Homo sapiens: one gene and its partners. The protein of the gene in region 1 purifies or fractionates together with the protein of each later gene. This does not show direct contact. Each region holds a gene or a part of one and is shown in the gene's direction. Other genes may lie near its edges. The genes, in order: AMBRA1, PSMA6, CLPB, STIP1, METTL3, ARAF and DNAJC7.

Region 1 (3,500 bases):
TCAGGTTGTTATCCCTGCTCAGGGCAAGTTGTCATCCTCATAGCTCCTCCTATTTTTTTTTTGAGACAGGGTGTCACTCTGTCACCCAGGGTGGAGTGCAGTGGCGCAGTCTTGTCTCACTGCGACCTCTGCCTCCTAGGTTCAAGCGATTCTCGTGCCTCAGCCTCCAGAGTAGCTGGGATTGCAGGCACCCACCACCATGCCCGGCTCATTTTTTTGTATTTTTAATAAAGATAGGGTTTCACCATGTTGTCCAGGATGGTCTTGAACTCCTGGCCTTAAGTGATCCGCCCACCTCAGCCTCCCAAAGTGCTGTGATTACAGGCATGAGCCACCATGCCCACCACCACCCCCCCCCCCCCGGCTTTTTTTTTTTTTTTAAGGAGACAGGGTCTTGCTCTGTTACCCAGGCTGGAGTACAGTTGTGCAGTCATGACCTCATGGGCCCAAGTTACTGCAGCCTTGACCTCATGGGCCCAAGCAATCCTCCCACCTCAGTCTTATGAGTATCTGGGACTACAGGTGTGTGCAGCCTCTCTCAGCTAATTTTTAAATTTTTTCGTAGAGATTTGGGGGGCGGGGCCTCACTGTGTTACCCAGGCTAGTCTCGAACTACTGGCCTTCAGTGATCCTCCTGCTTTAGCCTCCCAAAGTATTGGGATTATAGGTATGAGCCACTGCACCTGGCCGCCTCCTGCTTTCTAAGCAGCTGACTAATCAGCTGGGAGACATTCATTTTGTTCATTTCAGCTTTCCCTTATTGGCCTCATCTTCTGGTTTTTGGAGATCAGGGTCATTAGACTCTCTTTTAGTTTCAAAGCTAACTGTTTTGGATAGTACTTCTTTGGGAAAACCTGAAAGAAGTTTGGGTGGTATTTTAGATACCTTGGTGGGTTGTCTGTGTTTATCAAACTGGAAGATGGAGATGTAAGCACATAATTGACATTTATTTAGTCCTCAAGATCAAAACATATTGTCTGTATTAAAGTTGATGCATTGTGTTTCTTTGGTCCTCTTGGATTTCCAGTCGAATACAGGCCAATTTTCTGGTTTCAGCTATGTCACTTAATGCTGGGACTGTTCATTGCCACCAAGATTCATGCTTCTTGCCGGTGTAGCTGCCATATGAGGGAAGAACTGATTCTGTGGCAGAGTATGAGAGCATTTTATGCTTTACGGTTAGGATGAACTCTTGTATTTGAGCAAAGGTGTGCTTAAGGTAGCTGTTTCCTGGGATGGCAACTCTAGGTGTTTTTCATGTGAAATCGTTATTTTTGTGATACATATTCCTTTACTCTGGCAAGAAGTATTGAGTGTTACTATTTTAATCTCTTTGAAAGTTTTGGAAGTCTTGAATGAAGTGGATACCTGAGTGATACCAGTTATCAGTAATGATTGCTATAAATTCAAACACAAGTTTCCTCTTCTCAGTTAACATAATCTCTCTATGTGTGTCTTTGTCTCTTTCTTCTGTGATTTTAGTCTGGTGAGATTTGATCCACTTGGACACTACTTACTCACAGCAATTGTTAACCCCTCTAATCAACAGGTAAGTTAGTCCAGCAGTTCCAATTCCAGCTAAACTGTGAGTTCTTTTCTTAACTAGTATTCCAATTCTGATTATATTGGATTTTAATTCTCAATACCCAAGTCTTATCTTTCCAGTCAAGATTTAAAGCTAGCTTCAGACTGTATATTCAGGGTTATAGCCATAATCTTGACAGGAGAGTCGATTCTGAAACCCTCCAGTGATTGCCTCATTAGAAGTAACCCTTATCATCACTAGACAGTGTTGGATAGCTTGTCACTCATGTGCCTCTGGCTGGTTGACATTTTGCTTCCCCTCACTGCTTCCATGTCATGGGGAGATGTCTTTTGTAAGACAATTGGTTTGTCAGCTGCACTCATTCAGATATGCTGCTAATTGGGAGTGGAAAATTTAATACCATGTGATTATTTTGAATCTGAGGCCAGTTGTCAGTGCTTCAGGGGTAGAGAGTTGTTTCCTACCTATGAACATTGTTTTCCTTGGATGATTGTCAGTGGTTAGTTTTTCTTGATTTACTTGGAGGTTCTACCTAACTGCCTTGCTCTACCCCCTGCCCCATGCTGGTCCACGTTGCAGGGTGATGACGAACCAGAGATCCCCATAGATGGAACAGAATTATCCCACTACCGTCAGCGTGCCCTCCTGCAATCACAGCCAGTTCGCCGGACGCCTCTCCTCCACAATTTCCTGCACATGCTGTCCTCCCGCTCTTCTGGCATCCAGGTGGGAGAGCAAAGCACAGTGCAAGATTCTGCTACCCCCTCACCCCCACCGCCTCCCCCTCAGCCCTCCACGGAGCGCCCCAGGACTTCCGCTTACATCAGGCTCCGACAGCGGGTCAGTTACCCCACAGCTGAGTGCTGCCAGCACCTTGGGATCCTGTGCCTTTGCAGCCGCTGCTCTGGCACTCGAGTTCCTTCCCTCTTGCCACACCAGGACAGTGTCCCCCCTGCTTCTGCCAGAGCTACTACCCCTTCCTTTTCTTTTGTACAGACCGAGCCCTTCCATCCCCCGGAGCAGGCCTCGTCAACGCAGCAGGACCAGGGCCTCCTGAACCGGCCGTCTGCCTTCAGTACAGTCCAGAGCAGCACTGCCGGCAACACGCTCCGCAACCTCAGTCTGGGTCCTACCCGCCGCTCTTTGGGAGGGCCTCTGTCTAGCCACCCTTCTAGGTATCACCGAGAAATAGCTCCTGGGTTGACAGGATCTGAGTGGACCCGGACAGTACTCAGTCTGAACTCCCGCTCTGAGGCGGAATCCATGCCCCCGCCCAGAACCAGTGCCTCTTCGGTGAGTTTGCTGTCTGTGCTGAGACAGCAGGAAGGTGGCTCTCAGGCATCTGTGTACACTTCAGCCACAGAAGGGAGGGGTTTTCCGGCATCAGGGTTGGCAACTGAGTCAGATGGAGGGAATGGCTCCAGCCAAAACAACTCGGGCAGCATTCGCCATGAGCTTCAGTGTGACCTGAGACGCTTCTTTCTGGAGTATGACCGGCTTCAGGAGCTGGATCAGAGCCTGAGTGGGGAAGCTCCCCAGACCCAACAGGCCCAGGAAATGCTCAACAATAACATTGAATCTGAGAGGCCAGGCCCTTCCCACCAGCCCACCCCACACAGCAGTGAGAACAACTCCAACCTGTCCCGTGGCCACCTGAATCGCTGTCGTGCTTGCCACAATCTCCTGACCTTCAACAACGATACCCTGCGCTGGGAAAGAACCACACCTAACTACTCCTCTGGCGAGGCTAGTTCCTCTTGGCAGGTCCCCAGCTCCTTTGAGAGTGTGCCATCAAGTGGCAGCCAGTTGCCACCTCTCGAGCGGACTGAGGGCCAAACGCCCAGCTCCAGCAGGCTGGAGTTGAGCAGCTCTGCTAGTCCGCAGGAGGAGAGGACTGTGGGGGTGGCCTTTAACCAGGAGACAGGCCACTGGGAAAGAATTTACACCCAGTCCA
Region 2 (3,500 bases), on another chromosome or scaffold:
TGGTGTTTAAACAACACACACTTATTATGTCATAGTTTCTTTATGTTTTTCATTTGTTTTTCTCTGTTTTCAAAATTTTTTCTATTTTTGGTTTTCAGACATTGGACCATAATGAATCTATATGTGATTTTCTGTTTTCATTTTGCTTGGAGTTTTCTGAGGTTCTTTAATCTGAAATTTTTTTGTCTTTTGCCATATTTTTAACATTTTTAGCCATTATTTCTTCAGATTTTGTTTTCCGATTCTTTGCTCTCCATATAGGACTCCAGTTGTACATATCTTACACATTTTGATGTAGACCCACAGATTCGTTGTTTTTTTCAACTATTTTTTCTGCCTTTTTAAGATTGGATCATTTGATACATTTTCATATTCACTCACTCTTTCCTTTCTCATCTCCATTCTACAGTTACGTCCATTTGGTGAATTTTTAAATTTTACGTATTATATTTTTCAGTTCTACAATTTCCTTTTGCTTCTTTCATTTTTTCTTTGCTGAGATTTCCTATCATTTTTCATTTTGAGAACATTTTCCATCATGTCATTGAGCATAGTTATAATGGTTGTTTTTAATTCTTTGCTAATACAGCAACATCTGGGTCGTCTCAGGATTGTTCTTTTTGAGAATTAAACACAATATTCCTGGTTTTTGTTGTTTGGTTTTGGTTTTGGTTTTTTAGTTTGACTTGATTTGTTTTTTGGTATATTGAGAGTTCCGGATTGTATCCTGGACATTTATGAATGTTATTTTATGAAGACTGTGGATTCTGTTATATTTCTCCAAAGAGTATTGACTTGTTTTGTTCTAATAGGCAGTTAATTTGGTTATTCTCAAGCTACAAAGTCTGTCTCTTGGGTGGCATCTTAAATCTCACTCGGTTTCTTTTATCCTTAACTAGGCCGCTTGGAGTCTGCCTTGTGTGTGTTGTTATGGAATCTGCTAGAGATTTGGGCAGTGTTTATATATAGAAGTTGGGACTCTCACTCTCTAGTGCTCTGGTTTCTCTCCCTTGTTTTCTGGCAGCTATTGTTACCCCAAACTGTTCTCTAGTTCTTCAGGCCAAAAAGACTGAGTTTTCTGTGGGAGTTCAGCCTTTACTGCTCTCAGATTATGAGCCACAAAAATGGGAAACTCAACTCATGCCATTCCTTTCTCCCAACTGTTGACTTCCCCTCTAGAATCTGACTTTGTGGTGTCTTTAGGTAGTTGTTGTTTTGTTTAGAGTTAGTACTTTTTATTTGTGGAGGGCTGATCTGATAGAAGCTTTATTAGCCATATCAGGATCAGAATCAAGAAGCACTTTGAAAGTTGTACAGCTAGTCCTCCATATTCAACCCATATTCATGGGTTCATCATCCATGGATTCAACCAGCTGCAGATCATAAATATTCAGGGAAAAAATTGCTCCTGTACTGAACATGTACAGATTTTTTTCTTGTCATTATTCGCTAAACAATGTAGTATAACAACTATTTAGCATTTACATTGTATTAGCTAGTGTAGTGTAAGCTAGAGATAATTTCTTTCTTTTTTTTTTTTTAAACGGAGTCTCACTCATTGTATTAGCTCGTGTAGTGTAAGCTAGAGATAATTTCTTTCTTTTTTTTTTAGACGGAGTCTCGCTCTGTAGCCCAGGCTGGAGTGTAGTGGTGCAATCTCAGCTCACTGCAACCTCCACCTCCCAGGTTCCAGCGATTTTCCTGCCTCAGCCTCCTGAGTAGCTGGGATTACAGGCACCTGCCACCATGTCTGGCTAATTTTTGTATTTTTAATAGAGATGCGGTTTCACCATGTCGGCCAGGATGGTCTTGAACTCCTGACTTCAGGTGATCTGCCTGTCTCTGCCTCCCAAAGTGCTGGGATTACAGGTGTCAGCCACCACGCCTGGCCAAGCTAGGGATAATTTCAAGTATACAGGAGGATATACATAGGCGATGTGCAAATACTGTGCCATTTTATATCAGAGACTTGAGTTTCTGTGGATTTTGGAATCCATGGGAGGTCCTAGAACCAATCCCCACAAATAGCGAGGCACCAGCTACATTTTAGAAGTTATTTGTAGTGTAGGCTGAGCGCGGTCGCTCACACCTGTAATCCCAGCATCTGGGAGGCCGAGGTGGGTGTACTACCTGAGGTCAGGAGTTCAAGACCAGCCTGGCCAACATGGCGAAACCTCGTCTCTACTAAAAATACAAAAATTAGCTGGGCGTGGTTGTGCACACCTGTAATCCCAGCTACTCGGGAGGCTCAGGCAGAATTGCTCCAACCCAGGAGGCAGGGGTTGCAGTAAGCCAAGATTGCACCACTGCACTCCAACCTGGGCGACAGAGTGAAACTCCATCTCAAAAAAAAAAAAAAAAGTTATTTGTAGTGTAATGGGATGGTAAAATTTTGCTATTATAATTAACCAATTAAATTGGGGGTTATGGCTCATACCTGCTGTAATCCCAGCTACTCCAGAAGCCGAGGCAAGAGGATCATTTGAGGCCAAGAGTTTGAGACCAGCCTGAGCAATGTAGTGAGACCCCATCTCTAAAAAATTGTTTTAAATTAGGCATGGTGATACCCACCTGTAGTCTCAGCTGCTCAGGAGACTGAAGTGGGAGGGTCTGAATCAGAAGTTTGAGGCTGTGGTGAGCTATGATTGTGCCACTGCACTCAGCCTGGGTGACAGAGCAAGATGCTGTCTCTTGCTCAATAATGATAATAATGATAAAACCAGTTAAATCCAAGCCATATTTGAAGATTTCTTTTCTTTTGTTTCTTTTTTTTTTTTTTGAAATGGGGTCTTGCTCTGTTGCCCAGGCTGGAGTACGGTGGTGTGAGCACGGCTCACTGCAGCCTCGACCTCCTGGGCTCAAGTGATCCTCTTGCCTCAGCCTCCCAAGGAACTGGGACCACAGGTGTACCACCATGCCTAGCTAACATTTTTTTGTAGAGACAGGGTCTTGCCATGTTGCCCAGGCTGGCCTGGGACTCCGGGGCTCAAGCAGTCCTCCCACCTTGGCTTCCCAAATTGCTAGGATTACAGATGTGAGCCACTGCACCCAGCTGAGGATTTCCTTTAAGGTGATTTTTCTAGAATCATTTTTGCTCTGTTCTTTTGTTCTCTCTTAAATAGTTAGCCATTTAGAAATATTTGATGATTTATTACAGTTTCTATTAAAAGAGATTCTTTAGCCTGATAGGCAGTAGCTTTCTTAGCTGGTCGTCATCACCTGTGGCTTTTTGAACAGATGAGGCCTTGGCTCAGACTCAGTGCCCAGAGTGACACTCGAAGACAGAATTTTGAAATAATCTGTTATATGTCAAAATGTAAATAATGATTGGGATTATGAATAATTATTTAAAAGTTATCTTCTGTGTTTTCATATTTTCTACCATGAGCATGTATTGATTTTTGTTGCTTTTCCCCTGATTACAAAATATGTGCCCAGGCCAGGAACAGTGGCTCATGCCTGTAATCCTAAGGTGGGAGGATCACTTGAGCCAGAGTTTG
Region 3 (3,500 bases), about 26 Mb from region 1:
GCATGCCCCATGTTGGAAACTAAAAGCACAGAAAGGCCTTCCTAGCATGTTTCCTTCCTTCTACCAGGTGGCCAAGTTTATTGGGTCTCCACCAGGCTACGTTGGCCATGAGGAGGGTGGCCAGCTGACCAAGAAGTTGAAGCAGTGCCCCAATGCTGTGGTGCTCTTTGATGAAGTAGACAAGGCCCATCCAGATGTGCTCACCATCATGCTGCAGCTGTTTGATGAGGTGAGTCACCTTGGGCCAGGATGGAGCGGGGGGACACCTGGAGATAAGGGGGACTGTGAACAGCAGAAAGCAAGGGCCCAGAGGCTAGCTGGTCATTCCTCGGCTTCCTGCTCCCGCATGTGTACATTCATTCATCCAGTAGGTGCAACTTAGCCCCTCTGCACTAGGGCCTGGGTGGGGCACTCAAGCGAAGACCAGCCCTGCCTAAGAGTTGAAATTGTGTGGCTGCTCAGCCCACCTTCTAGAGAGACATGGTATGGCAGAGGTGCCATGAGAGCGAGACATGAATTTTTAGTTCCAGCTCTGCTCCTGACTGGCTTTGTGGCCTTGGCAAGTCACTGCCCATCTCTAGGCATCAGAGATCTCATGTGACAAACGAGGAGGCTGAATCAGAGAAGCCCCAAAAATCCTTCTGCCTCAGACAGCTCTTGTTCCTCCCTGTGTGCCAAACATTGTCTCCTGCAGTTCTTTAAAATGCTAATATTGTTGCTGCTAATGGTGAGATGCTGATACTCTGATTCATGGAGCCTTTCTCTTCTGAGAATCTGAGGGTTCTCACAGACTGTCCAGTTCCCCTGCTCGTAGGGGTAAGTTCTAAATGGAGAGAAGAGCTTACTTCTATCCAGTACCTTCTGTGTACTAGACCTGTACTAAAGACGTTACAGCCATTATCACTAATCCTCACAAGGTAGGTAGAAAAATTCCTAACAGGCAAGGGAGAAATTAGCTCATTTTTTACAGATGAAGAAACTGAGGTTCAGAGAGGTTATAAAAGACATGCCTAAGGCCACAGCTGCTGTGTAAAGAGCCAAGATTGGGCTGCAGATATGTCTGATCCCAGAGCCCCAATTCTCCCCCCATACCACTGTTTACCTTGAACCAGGCGAGGGATTGCTTACGATCACGGAAGAAGATGACTTCCACCTTTTCAGGGGCCCTGCTCCATCAAGAGAGCGTGAGGAGCCAAGGACTGAACCGGGGATGAGGCCTCTCTTCTCTCATGCAGGGGCTATATTAGCTAGCACCTGGCCATGAGTCCAGCTCACCTTTCTACCTAGTCTCCTGCAGCCCTAGGAAAACAAAAAGGTGGTTTGCTTCCCATGTCATAGGAGGCCACAGGGAGGGGACTCCTCCAGACCGAACAGCACATCAGGTACCAAGCCAGGAAGATCCAGATCCAGATCTCCTACCAGCTGCTCACTGCCTTCCCCACCTGGCCCAGCCTCCTTGCCCCTGCCCGTTCCGTTGTATCTTCCTAGCCCTTCAGCTGCTCCCTGCCCCTGAACCTCTGCTGAGGAAGAAGAGACCAGTCCTTCAGAGGTCACATACTCAGTTACTCACGTGTACACTGAGGCCTCTACTCCATTCCAGCCTCTTGATGGGATTCAAGTGCACAGCTATGACCAGACCCGAATGTGCCCTCTTGGAGCTCTCTGCCTGGTAGACAGGTGGAAAGGAGACATGGTAGTAGCTGGCATTTTGCATTTTGTGTGCCATTCGCTGTCTTCAGAGGCTTATGTGTATCAATTTAACCCTTTCAACAACCCTCCAAAGCTAGCTATTATTACGGCCTCCATTGAACAGATGTGGAAACTGAAGCAAAGTAAGATTAAGTCATTTACCTGTGGTCATGCAGCTGGGGAGAGAGAATCAAGGATTCAAACCCAGGCAGCCCAGTTCTAGATCCTGCAGCTTGAATGACTGCCACGCAGCTAGGGCCAAAAGAGCGAGGTCCGTCTCAGTGAAGCACGCAAGGGACGGGACCATGCCGCTGAGGGAGGGTGAGCATCGCGGCCTGTTTGATCTCTGGTCTCCCTGGAGAGGCACCTCTGATGGCATTCTTGGCCCAAAAAACAGAAGGCAACTGCTGACTGAAGTACAATCAGCCATACATGGAAGCCCTGTCTCCCCCTCCTCCGTCACTTCACTCCACTGACTGCCTTTTAGGGGTTGATAGGAATTCCTTCCTGCAGCTGTTGTCGCCCCTTCCCCCAGCCCCAGCCTACTATAGTTTCTGATGCTCTTGGTTCCATTGACCAAAGCTGCCATCCAGGTTTACTCGATTTAGGCTCTTTGAGGATGGGCCCTTGTCATGTTCACTTGAACCATTCCCAGAGCCCACAAAGTCAGGGGAAATGTTGTATTGACTAATTTAATTCAACAGTAGTTTTAATTCAACAGTAGTTAGCAAACCTTCAAAGGGTTAGTAAGTGCTAGGTGAACAGAGTGGCGGGGCTGGCAGTAGAAACCTAATGTATAAAAGTACAGGGCATGAAACAGGCTGGCATGCTCAGGGAACTGCAGCTGGTCAGTACTGCTCGATTGCAGAGGGAAAACAAGGACAGAGTGCTAGAGACAAGGTAGGTAAGGTAAACAGGGCCCAGTTAAAATGCCAGGCACAGAAGTTTGCATTTCTCTGGTAGAGAGTAAGGAGCCTTTTAAAGACTTTAAGCAAGAAAGAAACAGTCAAATTTTCACTTTACAAAGATGCCGTGGGCAGCTGTGTAAAGAATGGATGAGAAGGGAGAGGGTCATTAACAAGGAGACTGCTGGGGAGCCCAAGCTACAGCTGGGGAGGCCATGGGCTGGAGAAACTACTAGAAGGTTGACTGAGGAGAGGAGGAGGAGCCAAGGGTGGCCAGTTGGCTGCTGCCAGTTGGCCATCAGCTAAGGCGGCGAACACAGTGGGAAGCCGCAGATTGAAGAGGAAGGTGAGGCACTGAGGTGTGGAAATGTTGAAGGTGAGATACCTGAGGGACATCCAGATGGAGATGGCCAAGGGGCCGTTCATCAGTTTTATGGGTCAGGAGTTTAGGAAAGGTCTGACTGAAAATAGCAGTTCAGGAATCCTTCAGCCCAGAGAGGTTAACGGAAGCCACAGGAATGGATGAGGTCTGTAACCCAGGGAGTGTATAATGTGCAGAGAAAAGAGGGCTATACACAGAGCCTTGGGACCTATCAGGGAAGTCAAGACAGACTCGCCAGAGAAGTAGGAGGCAAAACCAGGCCAGGCATGATGGGTCACACCTGTAATCCCAGCACTTTGGAAGGCCGAGGTGGGCAGATCACTTGAATTCAGGGGTTCGAGACCAGCTTGGGCAACATGGCAAAACCTTGTCTCTACAAAAAATACAAAAATCAGCTGGGCATAGTGACATGTGCCTGTAGTCCTCACTACTCAGGAGGCTGAGGTGGGAGGATGGCTTGAGCCTCAGAGGCTGAGGTTGCAGTGAGCAGAGATTGCACCACTGCGCTCCAACCTGGGCAACAG
Region 4 (3,500 bases), about 18 Mb from region 1:
AGATCACCTGAGGTCAGGAGTTCAAGACCAGTCTGGCCAACATGGTGAAACCTCATCTTCACTAAAAACACAAAAATTAGCCAGGTGTCATGGTGGGCGCCTGTAGTCCCAGCTACTCGGGAGGCTGAGGCAGAAGAATCGCTTGAACTCGGGAGGCAGAGGTTGCAATAAGCTGAGAGCTCATCACTACACTCCAGGCTGGGTGACAGAGCGAGACTCCATCTCAAAAAAAAAAAAAAAAAAAGCTTCACAAGAGCATTCCTAGGAGTAATGTGTAGCAAAGAGTGAGCTGCGGGAGTTGCCCTTCCCGTGGTCACCACAGCGGCTTCATTGCTGCCAGTGTGAATGTTGGTCCTAGCAAGACTGGAAAGTTGAGAGTAATTCACGTCCTTGTCGTGATCCGAAGAATGTTGTCCACATCAATCCCTAGGCCTTTGCTTCCTGGCTGGACATGGTGTGTGGTTGGGAGTGTCCGCTAAGCAGCACTCTTTTAGAGCAGAAGGCATGTGCCTCAACGATTTCATTTCCCTCCTTGTAAACTGGAACAGCAGATTGTTGCCAAATTTAGCACCTTGAAATGGGTAAGCGTTGGTTGTTTAGGGTGTCTCAGCTGGAAAAAGGCCCTCCAGTGTGGGCGGTAGTGAGCTTTGCTGAAGACTCGTGCCACTCAGCCGCTTCTCATCCTCTCACCACCCCCTCTGCTATGGTTCCCTGACAACTAAGACCCTGAGGCAACCACAAGACTGACACCAGATCTGCTGCAGCCTCAGAATAAAGCCTGGTCCAAAACTCTGCTGTCCTCACCGGTTGCTTCAAGTCGAAGGGATTTCCTCTCCCCTAAAGAAGCGCTCTGCTTCCTGACAAAGATCTAGGAGAGTAGGTGGAAAAGGGGGAGTTTCAGAGCAAGCAAAGATGAAGTTAGTTTTCATTCTAACGGCTGATACTTTATTGTCTATAGCTGACTGATGAAGAGGCCTTCAGGAGAACTTGATAGAATTCTATTCATGTTAGTTGCATTTCAGAACTTGTGACAGATCATAGATTCTTGCTTTGTCACCTGAGTTAGATTTGCTCAGCACTCACTTCTAAACCTCATCTAGGCACTGAAAGAAAAAGAGCTGGGGAACGATGCCTACAAGAAGAAAGACTTTGACACAGCCTTGAAGCATTACGACAAAGCCAAGGAGCTGGACCCCACTAACATGACTTACATTACCAATCAAGCAGGTGAGGCCCAGAAACAAGGGGCAAGGGAATTGTTGGGTGTCTCTGAGGGAGGAAGCAAAGACTGACTGTTCCTTCTTAACCATCCTGCCTGGCAGCGGTATACTTTGAAAAGGGCGACTACAATAAGTGCCGGGAGCTTTGTGAGAAGGCCATTGAAGTGGGGAGAGAAAACCGAGAAGACTATCGACAGATTGCCAAGTAGGCTCAACCTTCCAGAATACCTTGAGTAGCGCGGAGGGTTTGCTGTCCAAGACTTAAGTTTCTCTGCATGGGGAGGAGGGCTGCTGGCCATAGAATCTGCTGTGTTAAGAAAGGGCTGGCAAGAAGGTCACCAGAGACAAGACAAAAGGTGTTGAAGGCAGTGATGCGGGCCTTTCTAGCTGCAGGTGTGTTTTTCTGCAGGAGCTGACTTTATCTCTCTGTCCTAAGCAGTCCTTGTCCCTCTTTCTTTATCAGAGCATATGCTCGAATTGGCAACTCCTACTTCAAAGAAGAAAAGTACAAGGATGCCATCCATTTCTATAACAAGTCTCTGGCAGAGCACCGAACCCCAGATGTGCTCAAGAAATGCCAGCAGGTGCGTAGGAAAAGAATAGGGGTATTTTCTTGTTTTCCTAATAATTGAGCCATTGTTTCTTACTGTTTTATTTAATAATGAACTTGACTTTTTTTTTTTTTTGAGATAGGGTCTCACTCTTTCACCCAGGCTGAAAGACAGTGGCACAATCGTGGCTCACTGCAGCCTCAACCTCCTGGGCTTCAGTGATCTTCCCACCTCAGCCTGAGTAGCTAGGATTACAGGCACGTGCCACCACGTCCAGCTAATTTTTTTTTTGAGATGGAGTCTGTTTGTCACCCAGGCTGGAGTGCAGTGGCATGGTGTCTGCTCACTGCAACCTCCGCCTCCCAGGTTCAAGCAATTCTCCTGCCTCAGCCTCCCGAATTGCTAAGACTACAGGTGCACGCCACTATGCCCGGCTAATTTTTGTATTTTTAGTAGAGATGGGGTTTCATTATATGGACCAGGCTGGTCTCAAACTCCTGACCTCATGATCCACCCACCTCAACCTCCCAAAGTCCTGGGATTACAGGCCACTGCGCCTGGCCACGTCCAGCTAATTTTTTTATTTGTAGAGAAGGGGTCTCACTGTGTTGCCCAGGTTGGTCTTGAACTCCTGAACTCAAGTGATCCGCCCTCCTCAGCCTCCCAAAGTGCTGGAATTATAGGCGTAAGCCACTATGCCTGGCTGAACCTGATCTTTTTTTAGGTAGTGGCTTTGGTCATCTTACATGATTCTTTCTCTGTCATTTAACAGTGACAACATGTAGGAAGTGATCTGGTGTTTTTTTTTGTGGTTTTTTTTTTTTTTTTTTTGCAGTTTTTGGTATTGGCCAAGATTTCAACCCTAAATGTGTTAATATTGAGGGCCTGTGCATTGAGAATGTTAATAGTTCTTGTAACATAACATTTTGACTATTTTATAAAGACTGTAAATTTCTTTTAAAATCTTGCCAGCAATAGCCGGGTGCAGTGGCTCACGCCTGTAATCCCAGCACTTTGGGAGGCTGAGGTGGGTGGATCACAAGGTCAGGAGTTCAAGACCAGCCTGGCCAGGATGGTGAAACCCCGTCTCTACTAAAAATACGAAAAAATTAGCTGGGCGCAGTGGCAGGCGCCTGTAATCCCAATTACTCAGGAGGATGAGGCAGGAGAATCGCTTGAACTCAGTGGGGCGGAGGTTGCAGTGAGCCGAGATCATGCCACTGCACTCCAGCCTGGGTGAGAGTGAGACTCCATCTCAAAAAAAAAAATCTTGCCAGCAATAGCCAGTCGCAGTGGCTCACGCCTGCGATCCCAGCACTTTGGGAGGCCGAGGTGGGCGGATCAAGAGGTCAGGAGATCGAGACCATCCTGGCTAACACGGTGAAACTCTGTCTCTACTAAATAAATAAAAAAAATTAGCCTGGTATGGTGGTGGGCGCCTGCAGTCCCAGCTACTCGGGAGGCTGAGGCAGGAGAATGGCGTTGAACCCGGGAGGCAGAGCTTGCAGTGAGCCGAGATCGCGCCACTGCACTCCAGCCTGGGCGACAGAGCGAGACTCTATCTCAAAAAAAAAAAAGAAAAAAATCTTGCCAGCAATACTCTGAAAATTAAAATCCTAATCTGATTTTTTTTTTTTTTGAGATGGAGTCTCGCTCTGTCACCCAGGCTGGAGTGCAGTGGCGCGATCTCGGCTCACTGCAAGCTTCCGCCTCCCGGGTTCACGCCATT
Region 5 (3,500 bases), on another chromosome or scaffold:
TTAGATGTGAATATCTCTTGATTTGTATATTTAGCTAGTAATATAGCTAAGACCCTTTTCTGTGTGTGTGTGTGTGTAAGATAAGAATCTCGTTCTGTTACCCAGGCTGGAATTCAGTGGCGTGAACACAGCTTACTGCAGTCTCGACCTCAGGGCTCAAGTGATCCTCCTGCCTCAGCCTCCTCCTGAGTGGCTAGCACCACAGGTGTACCCTACCATGCCTGCCTACTTTTTAATTTTTATTTCTTTGTAGAAACAGGGCCTTGCCATGTTGCCCAGGCTGGTCTTGGACTCTTGGGCTCAAGCTATCCTCCCACCCTGGCCTCCCAAAGTGCTGGGATTACAGATGTAATCCCAGTCTAGTTAAGACTCTTATAAAAGTATTTTTGGGGTTGTAATTAAATGTATCTTGTCTTCTGACCGAGAGCTTGATCTGACCCATCATTTGGTACTGTGGTAATAGGTAAAGATGAAACATACAAATTAAACCAGAATGTCACTGTTCTTTCTGTGTTATTTTGATTATTTCAAAGAATGTATTTTGTTGAGCTTTAGGATTCTTAGGAAACCCTTGTGAAACACTGTATTGTAAGTTTATGAATCATGTTGTCATGTAAGATATAACTCAAGACTTGATAAAAGTTCAGATTATTCCATTCGTTTCTCACCGGAAATAAAAATTTGCCTACCACATCTGTTGCCCAGGCTGGAATGCAGTGGCGCGATCTCGGCTCACTGCAAGCTCCGACTGCCAGGTTCACGCCATTCTCCTGCCTCAGCCTCCCAAGTAGCTGGGACTAAAGGTGCCCACCACCATGCCTGGCTGATTTTTTTGTATCGTTTTTAGTAGAGACGGGGTTTCACAGTGTTAGCCAGGATGGTCTCGATCTCCTGACCTCGTGATCCGCCCATCTCGGCCTCTCAAATTGCTGGGATTACAGGTGTGAGCCACCGCGCCCGGCCACACCTTGTTTTTTACAGCATTACTGAAATCTGATAATTACCGACTACTGAACTGAGTGTCAAAAGACAAGGATATAAAATGAACTAAAATGTACCCACCACATCGTTAATAGTGGAAAATAATATGGGCAAAATATTGGGAGACCTTTGTTAGATTGGCATTTTTATTATTTATTTATTTATTTATTTATTTTTTGAGACAGAGTTTCGCTCTTGTTGCCCAGGCTGGAGTGCAGTGGTGCCATCTCACCTCACTGCAACCTCTGCCTCCTGGGTTCAAGCAATTCTCCTGCCTCAGCCTCCCGAGTAGTTGTGACTACAGGTGTCCACAGCCTTTGGAAGGCTAAGGCGGGTGGATCACCTGAGGTCAGGAGTTCAAGACCAGCCTGGCCAACATGGTGAAACTCTGTCTCTACTAAAAATATAAAAATTAGCCAGGTGTGGTGGCAGGTGCTTGTTGTATGTACTACAGGCACATACAACCTTGCCTGGCTAATTTTTAGTATTTTTTGGGCAAAACGCCCAACAGGGTTTTGCCATGTTGCTTAGGTTGGTCTTGGACTCCTGAGCTCAAGTGATCCTCCATCCTCAGCCTCCCAAAGTGCTGGGATTACAGGCATAAGCCTCCATGCCTGGCCTCCTTCCTTTTGAAGGATAAATAATATTCCACTGTATGTATATAACACATTTTGTTCATTCATCCATGGGTGGGCGTTTGGGTTACTTCTACCTTTTGGCTATTGTAAATAATGCTGCTATGAACCTGGGTGTATGAATATCTCTTTGAGACCCTGCTTTAATTCTTTTTTGTTTTGTTTTTTCTTGAGACGGAGTCTCGCTCTGTCACCCAGGCTGGAGTGCAGTAGCGCGATCTCGGCTCACTGCAAGCTCCACCTCCTGGGTTCACCCCATTCTCCTGCCTTAGCCTCCTGAGTAGCTGGGACTACAGGTGCCTGCCACCACGTCCGGCTAATTTTTTTGTATTTTTAGTAGAGACGGGGTTTCACCGTGTTAGCCAGGATGGTCTCGATCTCCTGACCTCGTGATCTGCCCGCCTCTGCCTCCCAAAGTGCTAGGATTACAGGTGTGAGCCAACCACGCCCGGCCGAGACCCCGCTTTAATGCTTTTGGGCATATACCCAAAAGTGGAATTGCTAGATCATATGGTAATTCTATTTTTGATTTTTGAGGAAGCGCCATCCTAATGGGTGTTATATATCTCATGTTGGTAAAGTATATTTTTTTAAAAAGAAAAATATTACTTAAAAAAATCTTTATTTTGGCCTTGGCAACAGAGCAAGACTCCGTCTCAAAAAAAAAAACTTTATTTTAATGGAAACAAACTATATTTGGCCAGGTTTAGCACATAGTAAATATGTGAAGTGCTCCAGTATATTTCTTGAGATTGAAGATGTGCATATAGATGTTGACACGTTTAAGGATTCAGCAAATTTGTAATCAGACCATATTAATTTCAGTGGTTCTCTTAATTAAAGGGTGAATCAAGTGTTATGTATTATTTTGCTAAACCGAACACATTATTTTCGTTAGATTAGAAGCAGAATGTCAGTGTAGTTGCAGCAGAGCGGAGGCATTGAGTAAATGTGTTGAATAAATAAATGAATAAATACCTTATGAAGGATTTGGAACCCAGGGATTCTTATCATTTTCTGGACAGTAACCGGTTTTAGGGATGATAAAACTTTTCCCCAAATGTCTGTATACATACAAAACTTTGCACGTGAAAAGTTTAGGGAATTTCACCTGAATAACAATTGTATTAACCAGCAGTTAAGTTTTATCCACCACATTAAACATAAGCTCCCTCCTCCTGATAACCTTAAAAAAGGTATTTTCAGCTCTAATATTCTGAATGTAATGTTGGGGAAAAAAAACCTCCCAGGAGGTGTTATTAATACAAGGATTCATAACCAGAATTACATCACCAGATATTGGAATGAGCAGTATTAAATCAGTCAGATTACCAATGAGAAAAGTCAATACCAACTTGTAAGGACTGAAATATTTATGTTAACATGGTTCTTTTTATAGATTTCTCACTTAAAAATTTTCTCACTCACTTAATTACTCAAAGAACATCTTCAGTTACTAACTGGAGAAACTGAAAATGAAAGAAGAAATGGGTGAGAGTGGAATCCTCCCACCTCAGCCTCCCCAGCAGCTGGGACTACAGGCACAGGCCACCTTGTGTGGCTAATTTTTAAAAAAATTTTCTTTAGAGACACTGGGTTTCACCATGTTCCCCTGGCTGGTCTGGAACTCCTGGGCTCAAGTGATCCTCCCACCTTGGCCTCTCACAGTGCTGGGATTACAGAGATAAGGCACCACACCAAGCCCTGAGTCAGATTTTAATAAATTCAGTTTCCATTAGAGTGGAAAATTTTCAAATTAATGAATTATTTATTTATATATTTTTTGAGACAGAGTCTTGCTCTGTCGCCCAGTCTGGAGTGCAGTGGCATGATGTTGGCTCACTGCAGCCTCTGCCTCGTGGGTTCAAGCAATTCTCCTCCTTC
Region 6 (3,500 bases), on another chromosome or scaffold:
GGGTCTGTGTGTGGGCCACCATTCTTGTTACTGCATTGCCAGGAAGGCTTCCATCTTTCCTTCCCCTCTGCTTGGGCTACAATGGTAATGTTCTGTTTATAGTGTTGGTTCTTGTTATTCATTAATTCTAATACCTTGATTTAAACAATATTATCATCATCACCATAATCTAATCATTGCTTAATTATTATAATTGCTGTAATATGTAATCAATACAGTATTCATCTAGTCACGCTAAGAAAGCCAGGTGTCTCCTTTTTGCTGCTATAGTTACTATGTAGCATAGTACTGTATACCTATATACTACAGGTAGTACTGGATAGCGTCTACCAACCCTGGGGATGTTGGCATTGGCTTTTCCTCTGTGTCAGATGGGCACAATTATGTTACAGAGAATAAGGTAGCTAATGCAATGATCAGTTTTACAGTTGAGGAACATGAGGCCCAGAGAGGTTAAATGTCTTTCCCAAGGTTGTACCTTGAGTACCTGGTGAGGCCTAGATTTGAACATGAGTCCAGACTCCAAGCTCTTTACCTCTAAGCTTCTCATGCTGCTGAACAGGCTCTAATCATCATATATCACCAATGTTTTAATCCTGCATCTATCCATATTATATTGATACATCAGTGAGGAAGGTTGGCATTCTGCTTTCTCATCTGTGAGATGGTCACAGACCCAGGTAATGGTCAGAGTCAGAGGGGTGGGGGATGTTAATGATTAGAAATGCTGCTGTAGGCAGGGAGGGGGAGGGGCAGCAATTCCTCCCTCCTGCTTTTGTTGGGAGACTCGGATGGGGAAGCTCCACATATGAGCCCACAGCACAGAATCATAGCCCAGTAAACACATCTCACAAATTCATGGAATCTGGCAATGCTTTGGTCCTGAGTGCCCCAAAAGACAGGGTGAAAATAAATGACCGAGGAAGGTAAAGAACAGTGCCACTCCTGATGCTCGGTAAGTGACAGTTGCTATTTTTCCTCCCCACCTCTGACACTGCCCTCCCTGCCTGCAGGAAGACGCGACATGTCAACATCTTGCTGTTTATGGGCTTCATGACCCGGCCGGGATTTGCCATCATCACACAGTGGTGTGAGGGCTCCAGCCTCTACCATCACCTGCATGTGGCCGACACACGCTTCGACATGGTCCAGCTCATCGACGTGGCCCGGCAGACTGCCCAGGGCATGGAGTGAGCCTCCCAGCCTGGGGAGGGGTGGGGGGAAAGGGTGGGGGAAATGAGGTAACCCCCAGCCAATCCGCCACCTGCCTCCACCCCCACAGCTACCTCCATGCCAAGAACATCATCCACCGAGATCTCAAGTCTAACAGTATCTATCTGTCCCTGGGCTGGGGTTGAGTGGGGGTGTCAAGGGCTTAGAAGGATGCCTCTTGTGGGGGTTCTGGGAATTACAAGGGAGGGGCATGTGTCCCAGAGCTCCTTGCCAGGTGGCAGAGCTGTGGCCAGCCAGGGGGCTTTAATGGCAGTCTCTTAGAAGTCAGAGGTGTGGCTGGTTCAGGTACTATTCTTGGGGACTCTGGTTAGAGTCTGATGTCTGACAGTTGTGGAGGGCATTATGGTCAACATCAGAGGCATAGTGGGTTCGGATGCCCTCCGAGGGGCTTCCTGTTCAGGAGTCACAGCGGGGCTGAGTGTGGGGGGCATTAGCAGGCGTTCCCTGCCCACGTCAAGGTTGTGGATAGTTTGCGTGATATTAAGGGGCTCCTGGTCAGGATCAGAGGGATGAGTGGTATAGGGGCACCAATGGGAACCTCCCAGGCAGGGTGAGAGGCATGGCTATTAGGAGTCCCTGTAGTGGTCCTTGACCCTGGCGGACATCTTCCTACATGAGGGGCTCACGGTGAAGATCGGTGACTTTGGCTTGGCCACAGTGAAGACTCGATGGAGCGGGGCCCAGCCCTTGGAGCAGCCCTCAGGATCTGTGCTGTGGATGGTGAGTTGGGCCAGGCTGGATGGGGGGCACATGGGGACGTGGGCTCCGGGATTGGGGTGTGTGGGGCCAAGTGGGGACGGGGATGCCTGTGCCAGATGTGGGTGTCTGGACTCCTCATGTCCCACCTCGTGTGGGTGGCTCTGAGTTGTACCCTGTGTGGCCAGTGGGATCTGGGACTGTGGACCAGCCATTTGCTGACCTCCGTGGTCCCCCTGCCTGGTCTGGCCTGTTGTAGGCAGCTGAGGTGATCCGTATGCAGGACCCGAACCCCTACAGCTTCCAGTCAGACGTCTATGCCTACGGGGTTGTGCTCTACGAGCTTATGACTGGCTCACTGCCTTACAGCCACATTGGCTGCCGTGACCAGGTGAGCCCCACACCTTACCCACAGTTCCCTGGGCTGAGGGATCCCCTCAGGCATCCATACCCCACATCCCCTCCTTTGCACTGATAAATGCCACACTTTCCCCAGAAACCTAAAATTTTCTAGGATAAGGACTCCCAGAATCCCTTGGGCTCCAGACACTTACAATAAATTCTCTGGGTCTCCCCTACCCCAACTTCCCTCTTCTCACATCCACAGCCCTCTGGGACAAAAATCTTTGAAGTCCAAAATGCCCCGAATCTCTATACCTAGAATCCCCTGAGGCCCCCAAATACCCCAAAGCCCTCTGTATCCCTAGACGCCTATAGTCGTCTGCTCTGGGTACTCAAAATCCCCCAGATCCTCAAAGCCCAGATCTCATTTCTCCCAGCATCCCATTTTTCCCCAGAAACAGAACCCCTTTGTGCTTCTGGAATAGTCATGGACACCCACAGTCACCTAGGCCTTGGGTATCTAGCAGGCCCCAGGGCCGGGATACCTAGAACCCTCTAGGCCCCAGACCCCCACAGAAGTACAAGCTCCCCCAGACCCAGAACTCCATGTTTTCCCGAGACTCAGTACTTTCCAGGTCCCTAAGCCTCCTAGAAACCCGTGGGCCTATAATCCTCTGAGCCCCAGATACCTACAATCCTTGACAACCCCAAATTTAAATCCCTCTGTTCTGAAAGCAGAGAATCCTCCCAAGTCCTCAAGGACAGAGAATCCTCTGGGCCTTGATACTGACAGTACCCCAGCTCGCTAAAAATGAACCTTCCAAGTCCCTCAATACAAAATTCCTTGGGCCTCCCAGCCCCTGACCCCAGATCACCCCTTTCCTGCCCCCGTCTGCCCCCAGATTATCTTTATGGTGGGCCGTGGCTATCTGTCCCCGGACCTCAGCAAAATCTCCAGCAACTGCCCCAAGGCCATGCGGCGCCTGCTGTCTGACTGCCTCAAGTTCCAGCGGGAGGAGCGGCCCCTCTTCCCCCAGGTGGGCTGGGTAGGGGGCTGGACACCTTGGGTGGGTGACTCTGGGATAGAGGAAGACTGAGATGGAGGCAGATGTGAATATGAAAGCTCAGAGGTATAGTGTGTGTGTGTGTGTGTGTGTGTGTGTGTGTTTCACCATGAGGCTGGGACTGTTGGGGGTGTGTGTGTATGTGTGTTTCGCCATGAGGCTGGG
Region 7 (3,500 bases), on another chromosome or scaffold:
TGGCAATTCCTATGTTTTACCCTCACCATGGGTAAGAATATGAGTGGTTGAGGCTTTTGAGAATGGTAATAGGAGGAATATATGACTCTCAGGTCTTATTCTGAGACGTGAAATTCTATTGGCATGTGACTTACAATTTGTGTGGGGAGGCCAGATTGTCAGATAAGCAGTGTTAACCATCTCTCTTGATTCTAATATTACTTTTGGAGAGAGTGTGAGGGGCAAGCAGGACCCTCTCTTGTTTTTGGAGTTTCTGTCCTGAGAGTTCTTCCTTGGACAGTTTGCCCTGAGACAGTTAACCACCTGTTGAACTAAGGAACCAAGACAACTTTGAGAAGTGAAATACCGTTGACAATCCAGGCTCCTCCCCACTCTAGTTCCCATCTCCACCCCACCCCACTCCACCCAAAAAAACTCAGGAAGCAGCCTTTATATATATATATTTTTGAGACAGAGTTTCATTCTTGTTGCCCAGGCTGGAGTGCAATGGCGCAATCTTGGCTCACTGCAGCCTCCGCCTCCCGGGTTCAAGCAATTCTCCTGAGTCAGCTTCCTGAGTAGCTGGAATTACAGGCATGCGCCACCACGCCCGGCTAATTTTGTATTTTTTTTTTTTTTTGTAGAGACAGGGTTTCTCCATGTTGGTCAGTCTGGTCTCGAACTCCCGACCTCAGGTGATCCACCCGCCTTGGCCTCCCAAAGTGCTGGGATTATAGGCGTGAGCCACTGCACCCGGCCTAGGAAGTAGCCTCTTTCTTTCTCTCTTTCTGTCTGTCTCTTTCTTTCTTTCTTTCTTTGTGATGGAGTCTTGCTGTGTCTCCAGGCTGGAGTGTGCAATGGCACGATCTCGGCTCACTGCAATCTCCGCTTCCTGGGTTCAAGCTATCCTCCTGCCTCAGCCTCCTGAGTAGCTGGGACTACAGTTGCATGCCACCATGCCCAGCTAATTTTTTATATTTTTAGTAGAGACGGGTTTCACCATGTTGGCCAGGATGGTCTTGATCTCATCACCTCAGGATCTGCCCGCCTCGGCCTCCCAAGTGCTGGGATTACAGGCGTGAGCCACTGCGCCAGGGCAAAGCAGCCTTTTCCTTAATTGTAGTTCCTCAGTTTTAAATTTTTGATGGGTGCTGGTGTCCCTATAGTGGGAGATGTCACAGAATAGGGAACCGAGGGATGGAAAATGGTGGGTTTGGGGATATGTTATGAAAACAAGCCTCTGGCTAATGCTGAAAAGCCAGTGACTTGTATCCTCAGAATGGTTTCAGAGAAGCATGTTTCCCAGAAGTAGCTTCATTGTTGGGTCTCCTCTCCCCAGGGATAAGTGAAGGTTAGGTAGATGTAATAGATTGTGACACCTCTCATTTAAGGACCTAAAATAAATTTCCAACTCACCGTTGAGACAAGTATTTCCAAGTGAATATGTTTCTGCCTGCAGTGATGGGATTTCTGTAGGGATTGAATTGGTTGCTTGCTTTTTCTTCCTTACTGAATAAGGCATAGCCAGCTGCATAGCCAGGCACAGCTTGCTGGCTGGTGTCCGTCCCTGCCTGAACAGTAGGGAGTGCTGCTGCTTTGTGTAGACAGTCTGTGACTCCTCTGGTGCATTTTGGGTCCCTTCTGACTCTGCCCGTGTTGAGGCTTCTCCTTGAATGTCCACCCAGAGGACAATTTGAACTGGTATGTTAAGGAATTTTCTTCATCTTCTGCCTTCTCTTTATTAGCGGAGATGTGTGGAGGGTTGTTCCATTTGTGCTTTAAAGTGAAAACTATCTATTCTGTAGGAAATTGGGTAAAGAAAGCTGAGTAGCAGATAGCTTTGCTAAAAGGTAGCAGTTGGATAGCGCTCACCTTCTATTTTTTTCTGGATGAAGCACCGAGCATAAATACCTTGCCATATTTATAGAATTATTCCAAGTCATATATCTATGGCCCGGCGTGATGGCTCACGCCTTTAATCCCAACACTTTGGAAGGCAGAGATTGGCGGATCACTTGAGGTCAGAAGTTTGAAGACCAGCCTGGCCAACATGGCAAGACCTCATCTCTACTAAAATAAACAAAGATTAGCCAGGCATGGTAGTGGGGCCCTGTAATCTCAGCTACTCAGGAGGCTGAGGCAGGAGAATCACTTGAACCTGGGAGGCAGAGGTTGCTGTGAACTGAGATCACACCACTGCACTCCAGCCTGGGCAACAAGAGTGAGAGTCTGTCTCAAAAAATATATGTCTGACCCGGCGCGGTGGCTCACGCCTGTAATCCCAGCACTTTGGGAGGCCGAGGCGGGCGGATCATGAGGTCAGGAGATTGAGACCATCCTGGCTAACACGGTGAAACCCCGTCTCTACTAAAAATACAAAAAAATTAGCTGGGCGTGGTGGCAGGCGCCTGTAGTCACAGCTACTTGGGAGGCTGAGGCAGGAGAATGGCGTGAACCTAGGAGGCGGAGCTTGCAATGAGCCGAGATGGCGCCACTGCACTCCAACCTGGGTGACAGAGCGAGACTCCGTCTCAAAAAAAAAAATCTATATCTATATATATATATCTATACCTGTGACTTCCACTTATCTATGTGAAACTTATATTGACATTTCACTTGTAGAATAGTAGATTTTTTTTTTTTTCTTTTTTGAGACGGAGTCTCACTCTTGCCCAGGCTGGAGTGCAATGGCACAGTCTCGGCTCACTGCAACCTCCGCCTCCTGGGTTCAAATAATTCTCCCGCCTCAGCCTCCCGAATAGGTGGGATTACAGGCACCCTCCATCATGCCCGGCTAATTTTTGTATTTTTGTAGAGATGGGGTTTCACCATGTTGCCTAGGCTGGTCTTGAACTTCTGACCTCAGGTGATCCACCCTCCTTGGCCTCCCAAAGTGCTGGGATTATAGACATGAGCCACCTTGCCCAGCCTAGATTTTTTTTTAAAAAAGAAACTTCTTACCGGGCACATGCCTGTAATCCCAGCTACTTGGGAGGCTGAGACAGGAGAATCAGTTGAACCTGGGAGGCGGAGGTTGCGGTGAGCTGAGATCACGCCATTGCACTCCAGCCTGGGCAACAAGAGCGAAATTCTGTCTCAAAAAAAAAAAAAAAAAAAAAAAAGGCAGTTTTTTCTGGCCAATTGTGGTGGCTCATCATGTGTGTAATCTTAGCACTTTGGGAGGCTGAGGAGGTGGATTGCCTGAGCTCAAGAGTTTGAGACCAGCCTGGGCAACATAGTGAAACCCCATCTCTACTAAAATACAAAAATTTAGCTGGGCATGGTGGTGCGTGCCTGTAGTCCCAGCTACCAGGGAGGCTGAGGCACAAGAATCGCTTGAACCTGGGAGGTGAAGATTGCAGTGAGCCGAGATCTCACCACTGCACTCTGGCCTGGGCAATAGAATGAGACTGTCTCCAAAAAAAAAGAAATTTTTTTCTTAAAGAAGAATCTAAATGATATGCTTTTGGTAAGATGGAATAGAAGTTAGGCTCCTGGGCTCCTTTTACTTTATTTTGTCA

The links.
Region 2: the proteins of AMBRA1 (region 1) and PSMA6 purify together in Homo sapiens (affinity purification with mass spectrometry, with the first as the bait; 2 studies listed by BioGRID). This does not show direct contact.
Region 3: the proteins of AMBRA1 (region 1) and CLPB purify together in Homo sapiens (affinity purification with mass spectrometry, with the first as the bait; 2 studies listed by BioGRID). This does not show direct contact.
Region 4: the proteins of AMBRA1 (region 1) and STIP1 purify together in Homo sapiens (affinity purification with mass spectrometry, with the first as the bait; 2 studies listed by BioGRID). This does not show direct contact.
Region 5: the proteins of AMBRA1 (region 1) and METTL3 purify together in Homo sapiens (affinity purification with mass spectrometry; 2 studies listed by BioGRID and IntAct, with this or other methods). This does not show direct contact.
Region 6: the proteins of AMBRA1 (region 1) and ARAF purify together in Homo sapiens (affinity purification with mass spectrometry; 2 studies listed by BioGRID). This does not show direct contact.
Region 7: the proteins of AMBRA1 (region 1) and DNAJC7 purify together in Homo sapiens (affinity purification with mass spectrometry, with the first as the bait; 2 studies listed by BioGRID). This does not show direct contact.

The regions. Positions count from the first base shown.
Region 1 is NC_000011.10:46,542,024-46,545,523, reverse strand, and holds part of AMBRA1 (activating molecule in BECN1-regulated autophagy protein 1), read left to right. Parts: intron 1-1,482; coding exon 1,483-1,549; intron 1,550-2,125; coding exon 2,126-3,500. UniProt on the Homo sapiens protein: Substrate-recognition component of a DCX (DDB1-CUL4-X-box) E3 ubiquitin-protein ligase complex involved in cell cycle control and autophagy.
Region 2 is NC_000014.9:35,302,382-35,305,881, forward strand, and holds part of PSMA6 (proteasome subunit alpha type-6), read left to right. Parts: intron 1-3,500. UniProt on the Homo sapiens protein: Component of the 20S core proteasome complex involved in the proteolytic degradation of most intracellular proteins. This complex plays numerous essential roles within the cell by associating with different regulatory particles.
Region 3 is NC_000011.10:72,298,532-72,302,031, reverse strand, and holds part of CLPB (mitochondrial disaggregase), read left to right. Parts: exon of another isoform or gene 1-67; coding exon 68-229; exon of another isoform or gene 230-1,299; intron 1,300-1,570; exon of another isoform or gene 1,571-1,666; intron 1,667-1,851; exon of another isoform or gene 1,852-2,069; intron 2,070-3,500. UniProt on the Homo sapiens protein: Functions as a regulatory ATPase and participates in secretion/protein trafficking process. Has ATP-dependent protein disaggregase activity and is required to maintain the solubility of key mitochondrial proteins.
Region 4 is NC_000011.10:64,196,171-64,199,670, forward strand, and holds part of STIP1 (stress-induced-phosphoprotein 1), read left to right. Parts: intron 1-1,100; coding exon 1,101-1,227; intron 1,228-1,322; coding exon 1,323-1,425; intron 1,426-1,683; coding exon 1,684-1,804; intron 1,805-3,500. UniProt on the Homo sapiens protein: Acts as a co-chaperone for HSP90AA1. Mediates the association of the molecular chaperones HSPA8/HSC70 and HSP90.
Region 5 is NC_000014.9:21,504,841-21,508,340, reverse strand, and holds part of METTL3 (N(6)-adenosine-methyltransferase catalytic subunit METTL3), read left to right. Parts: intron 1-3,500. UniProt on the Homo sapiens protein: The METTL3-METTL14 heterodimer forms a N6-methyltransferase complex that methylates adenosine residues at the N(6) position of some RNAs and regulates various processes such as the circadian clock, differentiation of embryonic and hematopoietic stem cells, cortical neurogenesis, response to DNA damage, differentiation of T-cells and primary miRNA processing.
Region 6 is NC_000023.11:47,567,705-47,571,204, forward strand, and holds part of ARAF (serine/threonine-protein kinase A-Raf), read left to right. Parts: intron 1-1,013; coding exon 1,014-1,190; intron 1,191-1,282; coding exon 1,283-1,329; intron 1,330-1,834; coding exon 1,835-1,953; intron 1,954-2,188; coding exon 2,189-2,320; intron 2,321-3,173; coding exon 3,174-3,308; intron 3,309-3,500. UniProt on the Homo sapiens protein: Involved in the transduction of mitogenic signals from the cell membrane to the nucleus. May also regulate the TOR signaling cascade. Phosphorylates PFKFB2.
Region 7 is NC_000017.11:42,007,440-42,010,939, reverse strand, and holds part of DNAJC7 (dnaJ homolog subfamily C member 7), read left to right. Parts: intron 1-3,500. UniProt on the Homo sapiens protein: Acts as a co-chaperone regulating the molecular chaperones HSP70 and HSP90 in folding of steroid receptors, such as the glucocorticoid receptor and the progesterone receptor.